Linked DNA regions of Homo sapiens. The protein of the gene in region 3 purifies or fractionates together with the protein of the main gene of each other region. This does not show direct contact. Each region holds a gene or a part of one and is shown on either strand. Other genes may lie near its edges. The genes, in order: YEATS2, BBS4, CEP162, CCDC61, TBC1D31, CEP97 and SKIC3.

The links.
Region 1: the proteins of CEP162 (region 3) and YEATS2 purify together in Homo sapiens (affinity purification with mass spectrometry; one large-scale study listed by BioGRID and IntAct). This does not show direct contact.
Region 2: the proteins of CEP162 (region 3) and BBS4 purify together in Homo sapiens (affinity purification with mass spectrometry; one large-scale study listed by BioGRID and IntAct). This does not show direct contact.
Region 4: the proteins of CEP162 (region 3) and CCDC61 purify together in Homo sapiens (affinity purification with mass spectrometry; one large-scale study listed by BioGRID and IntAct). This does not show direct contact.
Region 5: the proteins of CEP162 (region 3) and TBC1D31 purify together in Homo sapiens (affinity purification with mass spectrometry; one large-scale study listed by BioGRID and IntAct). This does not show direct contact.
Region 6: the proteins of CEP162 (region 3) and CEP97 purify together in Homo sapiens (affinity purification with western blotting; one large-scale study listed by BioGRID and IntAct). This does not show direct contact.
Region 7: the proteins of CEP162 (region 3) and SKIC3 purify together in Homo sapiens (affinity purification with mass spectrometry; one large-scale study listed by BioGRID and IntAct). This does not show direct contact.

Annotation. Positions count from the first base shown.
Region 1 is NC_000003.12:183,805,797-183,809,296, forward strand, and holds part of YEATS2 (YEATS domain-containing protein 2), read left to right. Parts: intron 1-1,069; coding exon 1,070-1,296; exon of another isoform or gene 1,297-2,233; coding exon 2,234-2,308; exon of another isoform or gene 2,309-2,316; intron 2,317-2,933; exon of another isoform or gene 2,934-3,056; intron 3,057-3,300; coding exon 3,301-3,374; intron 3,375-3,500. UniProt on the Homo sapiens protein: Chromatin reader component of the ATAC complex, a complex with histone acetyltransferase activity on histones H3 and H4. YEATS2 specifically recognizes and binds histone H3 crotonylated at 'Lys-27' (H3K27cr).
Region 2 is NC_000015.10:72,734,707-72,738,206, reverse strand, and holds part of BBS4 (BBSome complex member BBS4), read right to left. Parts: intron 3,095-3,500; coding exon 3,025-3,094; intron 2,383-3,024; coding exon 2,241-2,382; intron 1,446-2,240; coding exon 1,244-1,445; intron 730-1,243; coding exon 620-729; 3' UTR 1-619.
Region 3 is NC_000006.12:84,217,644-84,221,143, forward strand, and holds part of CEP162 (centrosomal protein of 162 kDa), read right to left. Parts: coding exon 3,414-3,500; intron 1,571-3,413; exon of another isoform or gene 1,460-1,570; intron 218-1,459; exon of another isoform or gene 156-217; intron 1-155. UniProt on the Homo sapiens protein: Required to promote assembly of the transition zone in primary cilia. Acts by specifically recognizing and binding the axonemal microtubule.
Region 4 is NC_000019.10:46,008,967-46,012,466, reverse strand, and holds part of CCDC61 (centrosomal protein CCDC61), read right to left. Parts: intron 1-3,500. UniProt on the Homo sapiens protein: Microtubule-binding centrosomal protein required for centriole cohesion, independently of the centrosome-associated protein/CEP250 and rootletin/CROCC linker.
Region 5 is NC_000008.11:123,145,707-123,149,179, forward strand, and holds part of TBC1D31 (TBC1 domain family member 31), read left to right. Parts: intron 1-3,473. UniProt on the Homo sapiens protein: Molecular adapter which is involved in cilium biogenesis. Part of a functional complex including OFD1 a centriolar protein involved in cilium assembly.
Region 6 is NC_000003.12:101,748,614-101,752,113, reverse strand, and holds part of CEP97 (centrosomal protein of 97 kDa), read right to left. Parts: intron 1-3,500. UniProt on the Homo sapiens protein: Acts as a key negative regulator of ciliogenesis in collaboration with CCP110 by capping the mother centriole thereby preventing cilia formation. Required for recruitment of CCP110 to the centrosome.
Region 7 is NC_000005.10:95,520,478-95,523,977, forward strand, and holds part of SKIC3 (superkiller complex protein 3), read right to left. Parts: intron 3,358-3,500; coding exon 3,178-3,357; intron 2,850-3,177; coding exon 2,725-2,849; intron 1,831-2,724; coding exon 1,577-1,830; intron 342-1,576; coding exon 239-341; intron 1-238. UniProt on the Homo sapiens protein: Component of the SKI complex, a multiprotein complex that assists the RNA-degrading exosome during the mRNA decay and quality-control pathways.

The DNA.
Region 1 (3,500 bases), on a different chromosome or scaffold from region 3:
AGGGGGGGCAAGTCCCAGTTTTGCCATTAAGCTTCTTGAGAGCCTAATGCAGGATGGCCTCTCCTTTCTCTCATCTCCTGCAGCGCTTAATATCAACAGCATGAGGGCTTGTCTGACTTCGCTGTGTAAGCTACTCGGAGAGCAGAGACCGTGTTAATGATCCCCGGGCTTCACTGACATTGTGTGGAAAGCACAGTACTTGCACATACTAGGCTTCCTTTTAATCTGACTGATTCCAAACGGCCCCTAACCTACAATGGTTTGACCTGTGATTTGATGTTGTGACTTTACAATGGTCTGAAAGCTGTAGGCATCAGCACATACCTTGACTTACGATGGCCTTGTCCAGATAAGGCCATCGTAAGTTGAAAATATCCTAAGTCAAAAATGATATTTTCAACTTACGATGGGTTTTTCAGGATATAGCCCCAGCCATCATAACTTGAGGAGCAGCTGGAGCTTGTTAGAGCCCAGTCAGTAAAACAAAAGGCCAGGAGCTGGGTGCCCTTAAATCTTGTACCTGGTGTGGACCTCACACACTCATCCAGAAAGTGGAAGGGCACTAGTGCCCTAGATCTGGCCTTGAGGTCCTCACACTCCTGATTAGGTTTTGTATAAATCACCTTATTAGAGACTGGACCCATAATATACATTGAAATGTTAACAGTCCTGCTCTCTGAGCAGTGAGAATAGGGGTGATTCTTTTTATTTTCTTCACTCTGCATTTCTAAATTTTCCAGATTTGAGATGAGGAAAAATCAGGTCAGTCCTTAATACTCAGAGGGAGGGGGATGACCTGGTTTTTGGTGGCAGAAGTGAGAATTCCTACTCTTTCATCTTAGATGGCAGTTACCTTACATAGATCACACACAAGATGCCTGTGTTTATGCCTTTCTCCCTCGTGAATTACTAGTTCTCATCATTATAGATCCATAGAATGTTAGAACTGGAAAGAAGGTCAGCTCCCCTGATGCTTATCCCCCTTCCTCAGACCATGGGTCTCTTGGAGACGGAAAGTCCTCTTCCGTTGGCCCCACAGCTGTTGTAACACTGCTTGCCTGTCATTTAGAGTGCCCATCATCATTCTCCTCTGCTGACAACCTCTGCCGCAAACTGGAGGACCTGCAACAGTTCCAGAAAAGGGAACCCGAGAATGAGGAGGAGGTGGACATCCTCAGCCTCTCCGAGCCAGTGAAGATAAACATCAAGAAGGAGCAGGAAGAGAAACAAGAGGAAGTCAAGTTCTACCTGCCACCAACCCCAGGGTCTGAATTTATTGGGGATGTCACACAGAAGGTAGGGGTTGTGGTGTTAATAGTTCATGCAGCAGACCAGCTCAGAGCTAGATGTTCAGACGTTCAGCTTCACAGACCCAGACCCAGGTGTTCAGCCTCACAGACACAGACTCAGACCCAGACTCTTCTGGTGCCGTAGATGCTTGACTTCCTTCTGCCTGGTTGACCCAGGTGTGCTCTCAGGGCTCCCACCGTCCCACATCAGAGCCCTTGGGCAGAAATGCTAATTACATGTGAAAACATTGCTTGTTGAACGCAGACGTGAAGCAAAGCTGGCTAGATAGAAATGGTTGATTACTCTTCATCTTGTTTTTCTCATCTGCCTCAGTAGAAGCACCTTTCCCTCATGAGGCACGTCGTACTCTTTCTGAGTTGCACGTCAGCGCGTAATCCTCCCCTGATGTGTTGATAGCTCCTGAGTGCCCCGCCTGTGGTGCAGATGGCGTGCACCTGCCTTACTATACAGGAGAGAGGTATTTATCCACCCTGCTGGAGCCTAACAGCTCTTCAGCATCTGCCAGTTGCTCAGGGCCCAAGGTGAAAGACAGTGTGCTTTCATTGGATGCCATGAAGAATGGGCAAGATGCAGTTTCCAAGTGCAAACAGGACGTTGGAGTCTGATTCCAGACCTTTCAAAGTGTTGATTGCGTATCAGAACCCAGGCAGATCCCAACCATGTTCTCCCACGAAGGAGATTTGAGAGATTTTAATAGGATTATAGTCATATTTTAAATATCAGCCAGAAATGTGGAAAAACAAGATAACATTCTTCTAGATGTTATATTCCGTGTTCCTTTCCCGTGAATTTTGCCCAATATGTTTGCAGAGTCCTCCTTCCAACCAGGCATCGCTTTGCATGTCAGGGAGGTATGCTTGTTTGGAGAGAGGCTGTTTCTAAAGCAGCGATACGAACAAACGGCTTTCTTCTGCTTTTCCAGATTGGGATCACCCTGCAGCCCGTGGCACTCCACAGGAACGTGTATGCGTCCGTGGTGGAGGACATGATCCTGAAGGTGGGTGCCTGCAGGGGCCGCCAGCCAGGAAGGATGGTTGCATCCCAGGCGGTTTGGAGTAAGGGGCAAGGACAGAAAAGGAACAAAGATAACAGGCTTTAAAATGTCTCGTCTTATTTGGGCTTAAGTTCTCTCTTTTTGTTTTTTTGTTTTTTTTCCTTCTGATTTTTAAATGGACTAAGTTATGTTTCCTCTGAGTCATGTGGTTTCAGGTGCCTCCTAAGACGTATTCTGGGGGTGGTGGTCAGTGTGCTCGTTGCTTTAGGAGGTGGCAGAGACAAAGCCTATGGTTTTCTGTACACGTCACAACAGCAAACAGCCCCAACTGTCCTGACCCTGGCAAGGGGACGAAAATGCCGCAGCCTCCTTCCCCAGCCTGATCCTAGCTCAGCAGTTCCTTTCCTCGTGGATCCTCTCCAAGAATAGGGATACCTCCGTAACAACTGCTTTCCTTAAATACAATGTCTAGGGCTGGGCGCGGTGGCTCATGCCTGTAATCTCAGCACTTTGGGAGGCCGAGGCGGGTGGATCATTTGCAATCAGGAGTTGGAGACCAGCCTGGCCAACATGGTGAAACCCCATCTCTACTAAAAATAAAAAATTAGCTGGGCTTGGTGGCGCTCACCTGGTAATCCCAGCTACTTGGGAGGCTGAGGCAGGAGAATCGCTTGAACCCGGGAGGCGGAGGTTGCACTGAGCCAAGATCGCGCCACTGCGCTCCAGCCTGGGCGCGAGAGTGAGACTCCATCTCAAAATAAATAAATAAATAGAATAATGTCTGATTAATGAAAATCACTCCAATTCATAATTTCTCAGAATCATGGCCTTTATCATTATGGTCTATTATTGAGGCCTTTAATTTTTTCTTAAGGACTTTTTAATCCCTAGTTGCAGTGGTTTCAAACATTTGGGGTAAGGGATGGGGTTAAATGTGTCCCTTCTTGCCAGCAAGCAGATGGCCATTTGAAGAATAACAGCATCTTCCATTGTAGGCTACAGAACAGCTGGTGAATGATATCCTGAGACAGGCTTTGGCAGTTGGATACCAGACAGCTTCTCACAACAGGTATTACTATCTCTGCAGTCTGTGGTGTGAGGCTTACACCTCTTTCCTAACAGTTGAATTGCCCATGAAGGTGTTTTATACTTACATCAATCCAGTAGGAGATGGAGTGAGTGCTTAGGACACTCT
Region 2 (3,500 bases), on a different chromosome or scaffold from region 3:
CCTCTCAAGAACAAAATACAGGGAGGGACTTGTTCTGGATTCCCTTTGGGCAAATGCAGCTGCAATACTCAGCAGGCTTGGCCTCAACTTCCAGGGCTTTTGTTTTTTTTCTTTTAAATGTATACTATTAAAGTTGGATTATTAATCTAATATTTGTGTTTGCCTTGGGGACTAATAAACCTCACAACCTGAGGATCACCTCAGTTAAACCAAGGCTTTGTCATCACAGAGCTACTCAGCAGAGGTCTGTCTCAGCTGTTCCTTGAACTAAGGAAGGAGTCAGTCAGCTAGGAGAGAAAAGTCCTTTTGAAAGCAGACAGCATCATGTACCTTGCTGACTCAGCTACATACATAAGGCCTCAAGCCTTGCTGCCAGTTCTTAAAGGAACTGTGTTCTCTTTTCACTTTTCCTGGCTTATGGGGCAGTAGAGGGTTTCCGACCTCAAATGCCAATACCAGGTAGGTAGAAGGACCTTAGGCTCAACTGCTGGCTCCTCGTAATAACACACACTGTATTCTGTGGTGGGTGCCACTCTGCTCTGCCTGTGTCATGTCACCTTTCCTAATCCAGCACATCCTCGCCCAAGAAAACCCTATTTTGGGGTCATTCATTCTATTCTTATTTCTCTCTTATTTGTTCTGATGTTTCAGTTGGACTTGATTCCACCGCAGGCTCTGGCTCCAGAGGAAGAGATGGGGGCTTTGTGAACTGGGATGTTCCTCCAGCACCTAGTAACAAAATAAAAACTTGAATCCTCATGTTCCACAATTTCAGAAGAAATCATTCTTTTTTGCTGTTAGAGTTCAAGAGGAAACCCCATATTTTCTGGAACCAGTGGGACTGACCCATTAACTATAAGGGAAGACTATAACTGAGAAATAAAGCAACAGTCAAGTTTGCCTTCAATGAGTCACTGAAAAATATTTACGTGTCAACTTCTGATAAAGCAGTAAAAATTAAACATTGCATAACAGGATATACTTAATAACATATTGCTAAAATTGGAAAGACCAGTGTATAGACCATCCAACTAAGTCTGTGAGTAGCTGTTACCTACTACATAGCTCGCCTTAAGGAAACAAGTGCCAATTTAGCCACCCTGTGTTTTTTTTCTCCCCTTGTGGCCAATACTACGTTGGACATATGAGTCTGAAGAGAACCTCACTGAAAGCTATAATCTCTGCTGACAGACACATGTGGCTTGTACCTGCCAGGTCTTCATGGAGCTCTGTATGGTCCTACCTGAGGGGAGCGTCCTGTATGCAGCTGCTGAAGACATTGCCTGTCCTAGAGCTTGATTAGAGCCCAGAGGCTGCTGGAAACTGGCAGGTTTGCTGGTTGAAGTGGTCTGGTGCTTTGATTTGGGATCTTTAACTGGTTTGGTCCAGACCAGTGCCTCCCCAACCTGGAGAGCAGCTCCCAACTTCTGAGCCATCTCCACCATCTTGTGTCCACAAAGGAAGTAAAAGAATCAAAAGCGTGACTGTCAGAGACAAGCCAACCCACTTCTTTGGTCTTCGAGCTGGGGTTTTAGCTGAAATAGTGTCTGGTCGTACTAGCAGTTGAGGCAGGAAGTACTTATCAAACAGTAGAGATTACAGATTGCCTTTACTGGATGGCATGGTGGTTCACATAGGATCTCAAAACCCAACAATTCAAGCCTGGTGCATTACCGGGCCAAACAGTGCATTTCCTACAACAAGTGAAATAGGGCTGGGCACGTGGATCACGAGGTCAAGAGATCAAGACCATCCTGGCCAACATGGTGAAACCCCGTCTCTACTAAAAATACAAAAATTAGCTGGGCGTGGTGGCACGCGCCTGTAGTCCCAGCTACTTGGAAGGCTGAGGCAGGAGAATTGCTTGAACCCAGGAGGCGGAGGTTGCAGTGAACTGAGATTGCGCCATTGCACTCCAGCCTGGGCAACAGAGCGAGATTCCGTCTCAAAAAAAAAAAAAAAAAAAAAGTGAAATAGAAGGAAGCTACAGACAGACACAGACCTCAACTTTGATGAGTTGAATTAGCAATAACAACTCAGTAAGCCTGAATTTCCTTTTATTATTATTCTAGGAAAGTTTTTCTCAGGCTGTTATTAATTGATGAACTCATGCTGCTAGGAACATCAAAGCCAGAACAGCCATGAACGTGTAATACCTTGGATTTGGATGATCTGGGCTTGATTTTTAAAAGTCTCCTGAGAGCTTACTTATGACTCTTGGGAGCTAATAAAAGACATACCTCAGAGTCAAATTCCAGAGAGCTATTGTCCTTGAGTAGGCTGACTTTCTTCTCCATCTCCTGATATTGGGCCAGGGCGTTCTTCTTCTCGCCCTGGTTGTACAGCAGCACAGCATAGTTCAGGTTTACTAAAGGGTTACACCTGTGGCAGACAGAGATTCTATGGAGCTGGGGGCTCTGCAACAAATGGTCATTTAGAGATCCTTCTCATTACACAAAAACAAAACAAAACTGGTTAAGTAGAGATTTCTCCATTATGCAGCAAGGTAGGTACATACGTGCTAAGCAGACCTGTGGAGAAGAATCAAGGAGTTAATGGCCTAACAAGCAAAGCTGGTATTGGGACCAAATCTGGCATCTCAGCCCTCAACAGAGACTACCTAGGCCAGGGTTGAAAAAGGGATCTCTACCCTGCTGTCTAGAAGATGCCAGCGGAGTAAATCCTGGAAGAGTCAAGTTTTATCTTGAATTAAACAGCCCAGAGTCCCATCTGATATTCCAGCTAGCCCATAGCTATCAGCAACCCAAGCCCACTGCCAGTTCTGACATTCTCTAGCCTCCTGATTACTCAGTTTAGGACTGGAAACATTTTCTCAGAGTGTCAATTCCTGCTGAGCCACCACATACTTAGGAGACACATCCCTCCACACTGAGGTCTGCTATGTACTAATGCCATAGAGGAACAGCTGGGCTGACACAGGCAGCACCAATGCTATGTATGGCACCACCTCATGGCTTTGGAGAGTCCAACCCCCGCCAGTACCATTCTCAACAAAGTGCATACTTATCCAGGTGGACTGCTTCTGCGTAGGCTCTCTTGGCATTTTCTATATCTTCCAGATTGGTCAGAGCCACTGCAACAAAGAAAGCACTGCAGCTGGAGAGCTCAGCTTAGAAGACAAAAGGAGTATTAAAGACTACCCCCAAAGTAAACTTCACCCTGTCAGCTCATGGCACCAGAGTTTACTAAGTCAGCTTAGATACCTGGTGCTATCTTCAACCATCTCTTCTACAGTCAATCAGTTGCCAGGTTCTATGCATCCTTTTTTTGCAGTTTCTTTTCTGACACTGCCCTTGTTCAGGCCCAAGTAGTTTTAGGCTTTCCATTTATTCCCCAGTGTCAAAGTCCCCACCTGCCTCCATTCCACCTTCCACAGCGCTGCCAGGTATCTCACTGCCTTACAAATCTGACCACATTACCATCCTACTTAGGAATCCTCACTGGCCCCCCACATCTATAACCATGATCTTTACACTTTC
Region 3 (3,500 bases):
TGAGAAGCTATTAGAGGGAAGAGGTGGCTATGATGTGGCAGGCAAGATTTTTTGGTGTAAACAAGTTTAAGGAACTCGGAAGTCAGGTTATTAGAGGCATTAGCTATGTAGTTAATGTAGTCACCAATAATTAGACAAGAGAATTGGAGACTCACAGTGAAACAGCAGCTAAAATCTTTGAGGAATGAGGAGGAATAACCCGGAGTTCAGTAGATAACTGCAACAAAGAGACACAGTAGATAGGTGGTCTGATAGCAAGGTTCATAAGGAGATTGGAAGAACGGTCTAGAAACAGCAATGAACAATAACCTACTCCTTTTCCAAGTCTAATGGAACAAGAGACGTGGCAAAGAAAACAGTAACCATTGGAGGTTACCAGAGAAGCAGCAGTATTCACAGAGCAAAGTTAAATGTGAATTACAACTCTGCTTTGAAGGAATTATATAAGATTAATTGGGGGGGTATACCAAGACAGGAAAATCCAAGAATATTTCCATGAGGAAGTAACATTTCTGCTAAGATGTGAAGAAAGACCAGGAAATAATTAGGTGAACTAGGCCAGGGAGACCAGAACAGGCAGGGGACACAGTAGGTACAGAAGCATGACAATGGGAGGGGCAGGCCACATTTGCAGATGCAAAAAGGCCAGTGAGGCTGGACCCAGATGGTGAGCGTAAGCCTAAGAGGAAATAAGCCCAGAGCAGGAAGTCAATGGTTGGACCGTGCTCGTCCTCATAGGCCAGCAGAGGGTCTTGCTCTGTATTCCAAGAGCACTAGAAAAAACTGGTAAAGCTATACAGTATCAAAATTTCCTTATTTTAATAGTATATGTTTGTTGTAAAAAACTGATATATGGAAAAGGTAAATAATTATGAGTAATGTTTTATTTTTGTTTTTTGCTTTTTAATATTCTTTTGTTCTTTGTTTTCTTCAAAAACCAGAAGACTGAAAATGTGTGCTATAAATATGAAGATTAGAAAAAATATCACTTTTGGTAGGAGGAAGCCTTATTAAGAAGTCACGAATTTTGACTTCAAGTTCCTAATTTGTGTCCTCTTGGAAAAGGCTAAGAATCAATTTATTTTATGCCTTTCTGTGAATAATGGTTTTACTGGATCAAATAATAACCTCCATAAGTTGTAAAAAATCAAGAGAGAGATTCATAGATGCTTCAAATGAAAAAGTATATGCCAAGGTTGGTGTGCTGTAGTGGCAACATGTCCAGGGTCTCACCCTGGCTCTAAAGCACGACTTGAGGTTGTAGCTCACACTAACCAAGTTCACAAGAGATTAATATAACAGAAACGAAGATCCAGTTTAGTTATTTACAATAAAGAATACAATCAGCAAGAGGATGAGATAGTTTCACCTTCTAAGCCGAACATTTTATTCCTATGGCAACTGGGAAACAAGCAAAATTATAATGTAAAAGCCGCTCACTGTTAATGTTTAATGGTACCTGTCTTAAGATTAATAATGCATTCCTCTTCTCAAGAGGAGTGTTGAATTCTCCCTCAGAAGGTTCTACACTCTTGATACAGGAATCACGTCTTGCCTTTTCATAATAATGCCTAGTATTTAGAACATAATACAAACTCAGTAACCGTTTGCTTGAATCAGGGACCAGGTTATTCCCGTGGGCAGGGAAACCTCCCGCTGTTTAAGCTGACATTGTCAAAGTTTGCTTCTTGACTATCCTTCTTTACTTCTTTTACTAATCAAATCTATTTCTGATACATTTAAAAAAATTATTAATACCATCAATCAGGTTACATGTGAGTATTTTTGGTCTAGGAGCTATTCTTTTCCTGTAGGATTAGGTTGTATATATCTGCTCTGATTCATTATCTTCTAGACAAAAGGCTTTGTGTCCCAAATCTTTGTCAACAATTCCAACAGTACTTCATCTTATAATATCCTTTTCAAGCATTAAAAGCAGGGAGAGAGTCTAAAACATAATTCTTCACTACAAAGTTCAGCATGTTGCATAAGAATTTATAAAAAATGCACTGAATTTTTCAATAAGGAATTTCTTTAAATTACAGTATTAAAAAGAACAGAGAAGTAACTGTCAAATCTACTTTAACATGCATTTATTAAACAAATTTATCATTTAATGTTGAGGGTCAGGGGATACAAGGACAAAGAAGTGTTTCCTACCCTCGCAAAGCTCCCAACCGCAGGAGTTGTCCTATAGGTTACAACTATCAACACAATGTGTAAGTGTTACTATGGTGTTCTGACATCAAAATGAAGGAGAAACTAATTGTGACAAGAGAGCTAGAAGATAGAGTGAAGGACTGCAAAAAGTGGTGATGCTAGGCTTTATTGGGCAAGAAGGATGAGAGGAAAGGCATTCTAATGGCAAGGAAGCATGAGATAATGCACAGAGGCAGGGAGGCCTATGGTGTTTCCAGGAGATGAGGAATGATTACCTATGGCTACAGTACACGAGAAGGCAGGGTTCCAGTCAGATCATGCAGAGTCTTAATTATGACATGAATTCAGGCTCAATTTTCATGGGGAGGGGGGGAAACCAAAAGCCCATATGTATATTTTTTCCCTAGAGATACAGAAATTCTATCATTTTACAAAATTGTGCTTAACACTGATCCACAAATGGTGTGAATGTAGGTACTGAAATAGAAGCAGTCGGGGTTGTTTACAGATGTGGCAGTATCATGTATAGTAAACCTATCAGGCCAGGAGTGGTGGCTTAGGCTTGTAATCTCTGCGTTTTGGGAGGCCAAGGTGGGAGGACTGCTTGAGGCAAGTTCGAGATCAGCCTGGCAACACAGTGAGAGACCCTATCTCTACAAGAAATAAAAAAAATTAGCCAGGCATGTTGGCATGTACCTGTAGTCCCAGCTACTCAGAAAGCCGAGGTGGGAAGATTGCTTGAGTCCAGGAGTTTGAAGTTACAATGAGCTATGATTGTGTTACTGCCCTTCAGCCTGGGCATATCATATACATATATATGAGAGACATATATACATATGGCAGTAAATTTTTTTTTACTACTGTCATTAACAAACTGTGATACCAAGGTCTATAGGTTTGTTAAACTCTTCCCAATGCAATGACATTAATATACTGCCAGAATATCTTATTAAATCACCTTAAATCAATTTATCATTAAACATGATAATAAATATACCTGAATTGTCACCTTAATTTGAGTAAATATAAATTATCTCCATGTAAAATAAGCTGATAATGTTATAACGCAGATTCTCAATTACATAATAAATACATAATAAAGTACTGGTTATATGAAAATCAATTCAAACTTCAAAAATCCACACTATTAGTATTATTTTCTGTATATATTTATAGTGAAGTAACAAAATCCAGAAGTCTTGACTGACCCCTTGTGGTCAAATAATTTGAAACTAAAAATCAGCAACATTTACCATCATCTTTAAAATCATCTTCAGTTATCCACCAAGGCACTGTATCTTTCTTCTTCATCTCTTTTTTAGATTGTCTAGCTGTTTTGT
Region 4 (3,500 bases), on a different chromosome or scaffold from region 3:
ATCATGTTGGCCAGGCTGGTCTTGAACTCCTGACCTCAGGTGTTCCACCCGCCTCGGCCTCCCAAAGTGCTGGGATTATAGGCGTGAGCCACTGAGCCCAGCCTCAATTTTTTAACCTGGGTAGTTGTTACATGTACGCTGGCTTTATGATAATTTGTGAAACCGTACATTTATATTTTATACTCTTTGGAGTATATTATTTTTCACAACAAGAAAGTTAAGTAGTGGAAGCAGTGGGACTCTTGGGCAGGAGGGACGGGTCCCATCCCAGAGATTCAGGTGTAAGTGGTGTGTCTGGAGGAGTCAGGGCCTGCCCTGGAACTCCTCACTGCTCACAAAATTTTTAAAAAAAGAAAAATAGGCCAGGCACGGTGGCTTACACCTGTAATTCCAACACTCTGGGAGTCTGAGACAGGTGGATCACTTGAGACAGGTCGAGAGTTCGAGATCAGCCTGGCCAACACGGTGAAACCCCGTCTCTACTAAAAATGCAAAAATCAGCCGGGTGTGGTGGCACACACCTGTAATCCCAGCTGCTCAGGAGGCTGAGGCAGGAGAATCGCTTGAACCCAGGAGGCAGAGGTTGCAGTGAGCAGAGATCACGCCATTGCACTCCAGCCTGGGTGACAGTGCGAGACTCGGTCTCAAAAAAAGAAAAAGAAATGGTGAATGTACAGGGCAGCCAGGGCACTGAGATTTTTCAAAGCTCCCGGGCAATTTGAGTGCATATCCAGAGTGAACCACTGCATTGGTTGAAAGGCCGAAGAGAACTTTATAAAAGAGGGAGCCAGCTCTCAACAGCTGAAATCATCAGTCTCAACACCACCAAAGGAGGCATCTTGCCAAAACCTACCCCACATGTGATTAAACCTATATAGGGTTAGCCACCACTTCACTGCAAGTACAGGGGACAGAGAAGGACATTAAACACACCATGGCGATATAATCAGCAAAATCTATTTTTCATTTTTCCATCTGAGTATGCTTGCTAGGGAAAAATTCAGCAAAATCTAGACTGCAAAACTCTACAGGACAAATAACCTGATTTCTTCCACAAATAAGTAGCATGAAAAGTGGAGAGGGGGATATAAATTAAAAGAGATTTAAGAAATACATCAGCCAAGCTCAGTGGCTCGTGCCTGTAATCTCAGCACTTTGGGGGGCCAAGGCAGGTGGATGGCTTGAATTCAGAAGTTCAAGATCAGCCTGGGCAACACAGGCAAACCCTGTCTCTATAAAAAAATATGAAAATTAGCTGGGCATGATGGCATGTGCCTGTAGTCCCAGCTACTCAGGAAGCTGAGGTGGGAGAATCGCTTGAGCCCAGGAGGTAAGGACACAGCGAGCCAAGATCGTACCACCACACTCCAGCCTGGGCAACAGAGCAAGACTGAAAAAAAAAAAAAGAAAGAAAGAAAAGAAAAGAAAGACCTCGACAAACTGCAATGTGCAGCCGTATTTAGATACAGGACGAATTCAAACCACTTGCAAAAAAGACATTTGAGAGGTGATCAGAGAAGTGTAAGTGTGAACGCATACGCAGTGGGTTTCAGATGACATCCTGGAATTTTTGTGAATTTTGTTGGATGTGATGGCAGCACTTATATCCTTATGTGTTAAAGATACACACTGATGCTTTTACAGAGGAGACACGAAGACTGGGATTTGCTACAGGGCAGGGGGTGGCAGTACATCAAACAAGATGGGCAAACGTGGGTAACTGTTGAAGCTGGGGGACAAGTACGTGCAAATTATACTACTGTTTACTTTTGTGGTGCTGGAATTTTTCCTAATAAATCCTTCTTAAAATCCGTGGTTCCCCACACTCTCTAACAAGGAGCTTTCCTTTCTATTCAGCCCCTGCCCATCTGACTTCTCCCCTCCTCTCCTCCTGCCTCCCTCTCCCACAGGCTCCAGCCAGATGCAGTTCTCACCTCCCAGAACCTTCTCTCCCTCTTCTCCTGGCAAGAACGACTCCACTCATCCGGGAAGCCTACCTGCCCCTGACGTTCTCCGCTCTCCCAGCCCTCTATACCTTTCCTTCCTAGCACCAGCCCTGGCAGACCTGGCATGTAGAGGAGTGTCCGTTTCCCATGTGGATCCCACCTTTCTGGGGGCAGAGCCTCCACCTGTCTGGTTCACTGCACAGGACCCCAGGCTGCGTGGCCGGGCGCCCTGCATTCAACTCTATTCCACTTGTTAACAAGCTGGGTGGCCCTGGGCAGTTTCACTTCACATCTCTGAGCCTCAGGCCATCTTTTCTCATCTGTGAAGAGGGACGATAATAAGAATGCCCGCCTGTTAGGCTGTAAGAATCTATCCACAGTGCTTAGACCATGTCTAGCATAATAAACATTAACTAGCGTCAGGCAGTGTGCCTGGCACAGTATGAACTCCATAAATGTTGGCTCAATGAATGAATAAATCTCAGAACCTTCCCAAACTCCCTAATTCCTGGCTGGGAAGAGGAAGATAAGAAGCCACTGAGCAGCGGTGGGATCTCAAGGCTCCTGTGGTTGGTTCCAAAGGGTGGAGGGCGCCCCCTTGTGGCCATCTTGGGAAACACACACCCAGAAACACAAACCTAGAAACACACACACACAGCCTGAGACAGAGCAAACGCGCGCGCACACACACACACACACACACATACACACACACACAGCCTGAGAGCAGATCCTGAGGATAAATTTTGGCCTCCCCACTGCGGCCTTCCTCGGCCCAGCCGTACACAGGCGAGCTCCTCCAAAGACCGGCGGGGTTCCCCAGCCCCATGAGCTCCCATAAGGACTGGTCCTCCGGGTCAGCACTTAGCGCTCTGTCCTGGGCTTGCAGCCACCAACAGTGCAAACAGCTGGGGAAACAACAGAGGCTCGGCGCTGGCTGCCTGGATCTAAGGTCCAGCCTAGCCATATTACCCACTGTGTGACCTGCGCCAAGTTCCCTAACTTCTCTGGGCCTCTGTCAAACGGTGATAATAGCAGTGCCTACCTTGTAGGGTGGCTGTGAGGATAAAATGAATTTAATCATAAAGCACAGAGCAGCCCTGGCATACAGTTAAATGTTCAATAAACATTAGTTACTGGTAACATTATTACTAAAAATATTATTAGTCCTCCCCAACGAGCCAGGCCTCTTCCCGGTAGCGATCAAGCCCCAGATTCGTCTCCCCAACAGAACCAAGCACAAGGCAGGCATGAATATATATGCCAAAGGCCTTTGCTTCTTTCACTTCATTCATTCCCTTGTTCTCACCGCATTCCCACCTAACACAAGGACTTTGCCCAGGCTGTTCCCTCTGCCTACAACACTTCCCCAGCCCCTGGGCCTGACCCACCCTACACCCCAGTGGAGTCCTGTGACAGCCTCCCACAGCACAGGCTCCCTTTCCTGCCCTACTCATCTCCATCTGTAATGATATACTCAAGTGGTTATATACTTAGCACCCATCTCCCCCAGGGCTGGGCACTACGTGAGTGGCAGGGAGGGGCTAGCACAAA
Region 5 (3,473 bases), on a different chromosome or scaffold from region 3:
AGATTTCCAAAAATTATAGAGTACAGTTAACAAGGAGCTTTTATTTTACTGTGTTTTATTTTGTTTCAGTCTTTTATAATGTGTATACATTGCTTTTTAAAATAATAGCTTTGTTGATACATAATTCACATGCCCTATAATTCACCTTTTTTCTTTCTCTTTTTCTTTTTTTTTTTTTTTTGAGACAGAGTTTCGCTCTTGTCTCCCAGGCTGGAGTGCAGTGGTGCGATCTCAGCTCACTGCAACCTCCACCACCCAGGTTCAAGTGATTCTCCTGCCTTAGCCTCCTGAGTAGCTGGGATTACAGGCCTACACCACCATGCCTGGCTAATTGTTTTATTTTAGTAGAGATGGGTTTTCGCCATGTTGGCCATGCTGGTCTCGAACTCCTCACCTCAGGTGATCCACCCGCCTCGGCCTCCCAAAGTGCTGGGATTACAGGCGTGCCCAGCACCGCACGCAGCCTAATTCACCTATTTAAAGTGTATTATTCAATGTCATTATATTATCATGTACTAAAAAATACACTTACATAGTCATGCAGCCATCACCACAAGCAAGTTTAGAGCATTTTTCAGCACTTCAAAATAAACCCAGTACCCATTAGCAGTCACTCCCCATTTCCACTCACTCCCCCAAGCCCCTGGCAGCTACTAACTACCTTGTGTCCACTCACCTATTCAGGAAGTTTCATGTAAATATAATCATGTAATATATGGTCTTCTGTGTCTGGTTTCTTGTACTTGGCATAATGTCTTGAGATTCAACCATGTTGTAGCATGTACCAGTACTTCATTCCTTTTTATTGCTGAATAATATTCCATTGTGTGGATATTATGTATTTTTTTAATCTATTCATCAGTCGATGGACATCTGGATTCTTTCCAATTTTTGGCTTCATGAATATGCTATGTGCATTACTTTTACATTTCACAAATTTGAAGAGTGAAAATATAGGTTAGGTCATTTAATTATGCCTACCTTTTTTTTTTTTTAAAGACAGAACTTCACTCTGTTGCCCAGGTTGGAGTGCAGTGGCACGATCTTGGCTTACTGCAACCTCTGCCTCCTGCATTCAAGAAATTCTCCTGCCTCAGCTTCCTGAGTCGCTGGGACTACAGGCGCATGCCACCATGCCCAGCTAATCTTTAGTAGAGATGGGGTTTCGCCATGTTGCCCAGGCTTGTCTCGAACTCCTGGCCTCGAGTGATCTGGCCACTTTGACCTCCCAAAGTGCTGGGATTATACCTCACCCGGCCAAATCATGCCGACTCTTAAAACCACTCATTACCGCTCATACTTGAGATTTAGTGGTCCCAAATAGCACCAAGAGTACTTCAGGGAGGTGGAGAGGAGTAGAATGTGACTCTGCACGAATTAAATATTTAAAACTGGCTTACAAAAGATACTAATCATGGGAGCTGTCACTTCTCCCTCACCCTCTCACACTTACCCTTGTTTTTTTTTTTGGTTGTTTGCTTTTTTGAGACGGAGTCTCGCTTTGTCGCCAGGCTGGAGTGCAGTGGCACAATCTCGGCTCACTGCAACCTCCACCTCCTGGGTTCAAGCAATTCTCCTGCCTCAGCCTCCCAAGTAGCTGGGACAACAGGCGCCCACCACCACGCCCAGCTAATTTTTGTATTTTTAGTAGAGACGGGGTTTCACCATGTTGGGCAGGGTGGTCTCAATCTCTTGACCCTTGTGATCCTCCTGCGTGGCCCTCCCAAAGTGCTGGGATTACAGGCGTGATCCACCGCACCCAGCCTTACCCTTGTTTTAGAAAGAAAAATAGAAAATCTTTAGAGAGCTATCTACGTAGAAATAGAGAAAGGTAAGAAACTGTGAAAAGCTTTCGTCATCGGTAGTTTTCCTACACCTTTGCCCCTCTGCCTCCATGATGTCTTCCCTTCGTGCTAAATTTTTTTTGGCAGACCAGTCAGCCATGTATGTTTTTTAACCTTGCTGAATTTCACCAATAGAGATAATTTGATTAATAAACATCCAGTTTTCAAAAGTCTTAAGTTTATGACTGAATGATGTGTCAGTCATGTTCTTAATCAGGGTATATAGATTTAATCAGATTCATTTAATCCTAAAAGCAGGAGATAATCACCTACCATTAAGAAAATGACATTTTTGAGCCCGGCGCGGTGGCTCACTCCTGTAATCCCAGCACTTTGGGAGGCCAAGGTGGGCAGATCACAAGGTCAGGAGTTTGAGACCAGCCTGGCCAATATGGTGAAACCCCCGTCTCTACTAAAAATACAAAAATTAGCCAGGCGTGGTGGTACACACCTGTAATCGCAGCTACTCAGGAGGCTGAGGCAGGAGAATCGCTTGAACCCAGGAGGCAGAGGTTGCAGTAAGCCAAGATCGCACCACTGCACTCCAGCCTGGGCGACAGAGCGAGACTCCATCTCAAAAAAAAAAAAAAATACAAACCTATATGTGTTCAAAAAATACACATGTTCAAGACCTCACCAATAGTGATTTAATTCAGTAGATCTAATAATAGTAATAATTCCGTCAGTAGCTCTAGGGTAGAAACTAGGGAGCTAGATTTTTGTTTTAAAGTTTCACGAGTGAATATCCCCAGCCAGTGTTTGAAACATTGCTGGAGACAAAAGGTAATCATTAGTTGTTTGAACAGAGATAATATTTACAACACAGCCCTTTGGGAAGATGAATTGAACAGGAGTGGGCAGGTTGAATTTTGGAGGACAGATGAGAGGGAGCTGTGAGATCTCAGCTCTGGCTGGGCACGGTGGCGCCTGTAATCCTAGCAATTTGGGAGACTGAGGCGGGAGGATGGCTTGAGCCCAGGAGTTCAAGACCAGCCTGGGCAACATAGTGAGACTGCCTCTAAAAAATAAAGAAACAAAAAGATCTGAGGAACCACACCTGATTCGCGTCTTGTCTGTGCAGCAAATGTAGCAGTGGCCAGCGTGCTTGTGCCAGAATGCTGGTAGACTGGGAAGCTCGTGACCTTATTCCATTTGCTACAAGTATTTTATTTTGGAGTTATTTCTGGCCAGGCGCAGTGGTTTACGCCTCTAATCCCAGCACTTTGGGAGGCCAAATCATGCCTACTTTTAAAACCCCTCATACACCTGAGGTCAGGAGTTCGACCTGGCCGACATGGCCAACATGACCAACCTGGCCAACATGGTGAAACCTCGTCTCTACTAAAAATAGCCGGGCATGGTGGCGTGAACCTGTAATCCCAGCTACTCCAGAGACTGAGGCAGGAGAATCGCTTGAACCCAGGAGGTGGAGGTTGCAGTAAGCCGAGATCACGCCACTGCACTCCAGCCTGGGGTGACAGAGCAAGATTCCGTCTAAAAAAAAAAAAGTGTTATTTCTTAGTAAAATAGTTCAATCTGCTTTTTCTTTTCTGTTTTTCTTTTTCCGCTGAGTTCTGTCCGCAGAAACCGTTCTCTGGAACAGTGCAGATTGCAGATTACGTTTACTAC
Region 6 (3,500 bases), on a different chromosome or scaffold from region 3:
CAAATGCTGAGAGATTTTGTCACCACCAGGCCTGCCCTAAAAGAGGTCCTGAAGGAAGCACTAAACATGGAAAGGAACAAGCGATACCAGCCACTGCAAAATCATGCCAAATTGTAAAGACCATCAAGGCTAGGAAGCAAAATAAACAGCTAACATCATAATGACAGGATCAAATTCACACATAACAATATTAACTTTAAATGTAAATGGACTAAATGCTCCAATTAAAAGACACAGACTGGCAAATTGGATAAAAAGTCAAGACCCATCAGTGTGCTGTATTCAGGAAACCCATCTCACGTGCAGAGACACACATAGGCTCAAAATAAAAGGATGGAGGAAGATCTACCAAGCAAATGGAAAACAAAAAAAGGCAGGGGTTGCAATCCTAGTCTCCGATAAAACAGACTTTAACCAACAAAGATCAAAAGAGACAAAGAAGGTCATTACATAATGGTAAAGGGATCAATTCAACAAGAAGAGCTAACTATCCTAAATATATATGCACCAAATACAGGAGCACCCAGATTCATAAAGCAAGTCTTTAGTGACCTACAAAGAGACTTAGACTCCCACACAATAATAATGGGAGACTTTAACACCCCACTGTCAACATTAGACAGATCAACTAGACAGAAAGTTAACAAGCATACCCAGGAATTGAACTCAGCTCTGCACCAAGCGGACCTAATAGATATCTACAGAACTCTCCACCCCAAATCAAAAGAATATACATTTTTTTCAGCACCACACCACACCTATTCCAAAATTGACCACACAGTTAGAAGTAAAGCTCTCCTCAGCAAATGTAAAAGAACAGAAATTATAACAAACTGTCTCTCAGACCACAGTGCAATCAAACTAGAACTCAGGATTAAGAAACTCACTCAAAACCGCTCAACTACATGGTAACTGAACAACCTGCTCCAGATTGACTACTGGGTACATAACGAAATGAAGGCAGAAATAAAGATGTTCTTTGAAACCAACAAGAACAAAGACACAACATACCAGAATCTCTGGCACACATTCAAAGCAGTGTGTAGAGGGAAATTTATAGCACTAAATGCCCACAAGAGAAAGCAGGAAAGATCCAAAATTGACACCCTAACATCACAATTAAAAGAACTAGAAAAGCAAGAGCAAACACATTCAAAAGCTAGCAGAAGGCAAGAAATAACTAACATCAGAGCAGAACTGAAGGAAATAGAGACACAAAAAACCCTTCAAACAATTAATGAATCCAGGAGCTGGTTTTTTGAAAGGATCAACAAAATTGATAGACCACTACCAAGACTAATAAAGAAGAAAAGAGAGAAGAATCAAATAGACACAATAAAAAATGACAAAGGGGATATCACCACCGATCCTACAGAAATACAAACTACCATCAGAGAATACTACAAACACCTCTACGCAAATAAACTAGAAAATCAAGAAGAAATGGATAAATTCCTCGACACATACACCCTCCCAAGGCTAAACCAGGAAGAAGTTGAATCTCTGAACAGACCAATAACAGGCTCTGAAATTGTGGCAATAATCAATACCTTACCAACCAAAAAGAGTCCAGGACCAGATGGATTCACAGCCAAATTCTACCAGAGGTACAAGGAGGAACTGGTACCATTCCTTCTGAAACTATTCCAATCAATAGAAAAAGAGGGAACAAAGCTGGAGGCATCACACTACCTGACTTCAAACTATACTACAAGGCTACAGTAACCAAAACAGCATGGTACTGGTACCAAAACAGAGATATAGATCAATGGAACAGAACAGAGCCCTCAGAAATAACGCCGCATATCTACAACTATCTGATCTTTGACAAACCTGAGAAAAACAAGCAATGGGGAAAGGATTCCCTATTTAATAAATGGTGCTGGGAAAACTGGCTAGCCATATGTAGAAAGCTGAAACTGGATCCCTTCCTTACACCTTATACAAAAATCAATTCAAGATGGATTAAAGACTTAAACGTTAGACCTAAAACCATAAAAACCCTAGAAGAAAACCTAGGCATTACCATTCAGGACATAGGCATGGGCAAGGACTTCATGTCTAAACACCAAAAGCAATGGCAACAGAAGACAAAATTGACAAATGGGATCTCATTAAACTAAAGAGCTTCTGCACAGCAAAAGAAACTACCATCACAGTGAACAGGCAACCTACAAAATGGGAGAAAATTTTCACAACCTACTCATCTGACAAAGGGCTAATATCCAGAATCTACAATGAACTCAAACAAATTTACAAGAAAAAAACAAACAACCCCATCAAAAAGTGGGCAAAGGACATGAACAGACACTTCTCAAAAGAAGACATTTATGCAGCCAAAAAACACATGAAAAAATGCTCACCATCACTGGCCATCAGAGAAATGCAAATCAAAACCACAATGAGATACCACCTCACACCAGTTAGAATGGCAATCATTAAAAAGTCAGGAAACAACAGGTGCTGGAGAGGATGTGGAGAAATAGGAACACTTTTACACTGTTGGTGGGACTGTAAACTAGTTCAACCATTGTGGAAGTCAGTGTGGCGATTCCTCAGGAATCTAGAACTAGAAATACCATTTGACCCAGCCAACCCATTACTGGGTATATACCCAAAGGACTATAAATCATGCTGCTATAAAGACACATGCACACGTATGTTTATTGCAGCACTATTCACAATAGCAAAGACTTGGAACCAACCCAAATGTCCAACAATGATAGACTGGATTAAGAAAATGTGGCACATATACACCATGGAATACTATGCAGCCATAAAAAATGATGAGTTCATGTCCTTTGTAGGGACATGGATGAAATTGGAAATTATCATTCTCAGTAAACTATCACAAGGACAAAAATCCAAACACCGCATGTTCTCACTCATAGGTGGGAATTGAACAATGAGAACACATGGACACAGGAAGGGGACCATCACACTCTGGGGACTGTTGTGGGGTGGGGGGAGGGGGGAGGGATAGCATTAGGAGATATACCTAATGCTAAATGACGAGTTAATGGGTGCCGCACACCAGCATGGCACACGTATACATATGTAACTAACCTGCACGTTGTGCACATGTACCCTAAAACTTAAAGTATAATAACAATAAAATTTAACCAAAAAAGTTTAGTTTATTTAATAAAGATAATTAGAAGTATTCCTTCCATGGGCCGGGCGCAGTGGCTCACACCTGTAATCCCAGCACTTTGGGAGGCCGAGGTGGGCGGATCATGAGGTCAGGAGATTGAGACCATCCTGGCTAACACGGTGAAACCCCGTCTCTACTAAAAATACAAAAAATTAGCCAGGCGTGGTGGCATGCACCTGTAGTCCCAGCTACTCGGGAGACTGAGGCAGGAGAATGGTATGAACCCAGGAGGCGGAGCTTGCAGTAAGCCGAGATTGCGCCACTGCACTCCAGCCTGGGCAACAGAGTGAGACTCCATCTCAAAAGAAAAAGAAGTATTCTTCCATGGAAACATCCCTGTGGACTA
Region 7 (3,500 bases), on a different chromosome or scaffold from region 3:
ATTCTTTCCTATGCATCTAGGATGCCAGCCACTACTAAGAGCAGAAGAAATTATATCTGTTTCCCCAAGTGCAAAATTAATACAACATGTATGTTATAGAATTGGCTTGTCTGTTATTCTTTATGTTTGACATTCTGAGCAATTGCTATATCTAGCAGAATACATAAAATGATCTTCTAAATTTGGCTTCATTTTAATATTACAAAAATAAACAATAAATAATAAGAATAATACGAACCAAGTAAAATATTCCAGTGCTTTTTCTATGTAGTCTACGGCTTTTCCATCAAGATAATCAACTAGAGCTGCTTTTGCCATCATAAGATGGCATTCACCCAAACCTAAAATCAGGTAAGTTTGTCACTGTTATTAAAACATATAAAATAAACACTTAAAATGAACTTCAAATAAAGTTATTGGTGTTATTTTAAAGCACTTTCCAGAAAATAAAACTTAACGGTGTGTTATAAAATTATCTTAAAGCATGATCCTACATTCACTCAATAAGAAATTCAAATGGAAGAATTCTGTTGGAGTAAACATGCACTAGAAGTTATAAAAAAGTTATCTACAGAACCCAAGAATTTCCTTGACTTTGGGCAAGTTACTTACCTGCTAAAACTTTGGCTACAAAAAATGTGGATATTATCTATATGTTACTCTCCATGATATTACTACTTATTAACTATTGTGAAACAAGATATGATCTTTTTATATTAAAATCTGTATAGCAAGCTATACTATAAGAATTAAATGAAATAGTGATTACCTAAAGTTCCTAGTAAAGATTTCTTAAATGTGAGTTCTCCTTCTCTTGAGGAAAGAGTTTTACAAAATTAAAAAAAAAGTTTCAAGCCCTAAGTTATATGTCATATACAATATACTATTTATGTGCTCACTTCAGCAGCACATATACCAAAACCGGAATGATAAAAAGAAGATTAGCATGGCTACTGAGCAAGGATGACACAAAAATTCATAAAGCATTCCTTAAGAAAAACAAACAGAAAAAAAAAACCAGTTTCTTTAAAAAGGAGAAAGAAGGAAATGGAAGAAAGTAAGCATATATAATGAGCTCCCAGCTTTTTTAATACAATCATTACAAATGTAGGTTATATATGGATGGTGGTATTTTATTTTATATTACCAAAAATAACTTAGATAACTACAAAACAATGCAAGTTGTCTCTGAAGTTTAAAAAAAATTTAATGAGCTTGTATAACTTACAAAGTAATTAAAGGTATTAAGATATTCTGGAGACATGATGAATTAATTATCAAAATGTAAGAGTAGGGAAACATGTTTTAGAGATCAATTTTTAGATCTAATAGTTATCATACTGTTTGTCTAAAAGTTAAATCTCTGTCACATTACTATTTATTAACTTGTGAAACAAGATTTGATCTTTTTATATTCAAATTTATATAAGCTATACTGTAAGAGGTTCATATGGATGCTTGCTGTTGACTAAAGAAGTCCTTTTCAAGTTATTCAATACATTTAGGCAGGAAATCTACTCAAGGATTTTATACTTCAGGATCATAAAAGTCAAAGGAGCTACTAAAAATAAATTACCTTTTAAAGCAGGCACATAATCTTCTTTCTTTTTAATGATCATCTGGTATTGAGCTACAGCCTCCTTATATTTGCCTAGGATTTGCTGTATTGCTGCAACCTTAAACACACTGTATATGGATTCTGGGTTCAGCTCACTGGCTTTTGTGAAGGACTTCAAGGCTGTTGTGTAGCCTCCTCTGCTTAAGTATGCTTCTCCTAACGATTCCCAACAATTGAAGTCCTTTGGGTCTGCTCTTAATGCTGCCTGTAAACTAAAATTTAAAAAACCGTAAGAGAACTAAAAGTATGGAACTATCTCCAAATCTGAAAGGAAAATATAAAATAAATAATTCAAGTAAACATATATATCTGTGGCTCCTTCTACTTATAAAAGTGCTATTTAAAGCAGATAAATTTGTTCCTTTTATGATTTTTTTAATGCTAAGAAATGTTATTTTAATTTCAGAATAAGAATAAAATGCTTTTTTTGAAAAAGTGCTGAACAAAATTTCTTTTCCTTGATTATCTTGAAGAACTCGAGTTTTCTATCCTACCAGGACAGGTGTCCATCTCAGTTTGTCACATCAGCCCATAATCCCCCACCAGCAATCCTTTTACCAAACAGAAATACCACAGTTAAAATATGGAAACAATAGGCATGCTTTAAATATCTGATCAAATTCCATTTCCGTGAAAATGCCTGTACTCTAGATACTAACATAAACCAGAAACAATTTTATTTTGATTCAAATACATTTATTTACATTTAAGTACTGTTCAAATCAAATGACTCAAATTGATCATATATGAGCTGCTCCCAATGCCCTTTAAGCTGCCAAATGTCTCCCTTGCCAAAAACAATGTGTGTCAGCAGAACAACAAAGATATGTACCTCAGCTTCTCATCACTAAAATTTCTATTGAGAACTACTATACATATGTATTAAGACTTCAATTCACTAATCTGGCTATCTCCTCAACAACAGGACACCATTTAATCCATCTCTGCAATTCCACTGCCCTGCAAACAATAAACACCAATCAATCATAAAGTAATTTTGTTATTTCTTCTCTCAAAATACAACCTGGTAAGAGACAATTAAAATGCTTAATTTAAGGAACCGTTATGCTTGTCTAACATAGTTTAAATACAATAAGGTGCCTTACTCAGCCACTGCTTGAGAATGCTGACCAGCTTTCAAATAGTATAGTCCTCGCCTAAGCCAGGCCCATTTTGCCGTTCCAGCACTTGCCTTTTGAGTTACTGTTGTTAGGATAGCTAAAGCCATTTCCTAATAATAAGAAAATACTAATATTAGATATATTGAACATTATAAAAAGACAGAACGCTCATGTAAAGTACACAAACATATTTTCATTTCTCACTTCTGATTTTTTAAACTTACACTGGTATACATCAAATTACAGTTTCAACAATAAGTGGTTAGTAATTTAATATCTGCCAATGGAAAAAAACTTCACTTACAGAGGCAAAAATATTTATATTGCACCTATAGAAAAAAAACTAATGATAACTTTCAAGTATACATATATAAAAATATTTTCATTTATATACTCAGGATAAAAAAAACAAAAAGCAAAAGTGATTATTAGACATACCATATCTTCAAGCTCCACACTTAGGTCAACTGCTGCAGCTCCAGATTCAGCATCAGTGTCATCTAATTCAAAGGCTTTCCTATAACATCCACGAGCTCTGTTTTTATCTCCCACTACGTCTCTATAATAATGACCTAAATAGCAGAAAACTTTGCCCATATATGTATCCAGTCTTGCAGCCTTTGAAATAAATATTGATAATAACAGAACATTAAAAGTTCATTTAATGAGTATCTTTACAAATACAGAAGATAAATACACAGATTAAAGAAAAAAGAAATAATTTCATTAAACATACAAAAATATGCCAAAAAATCCTTTGA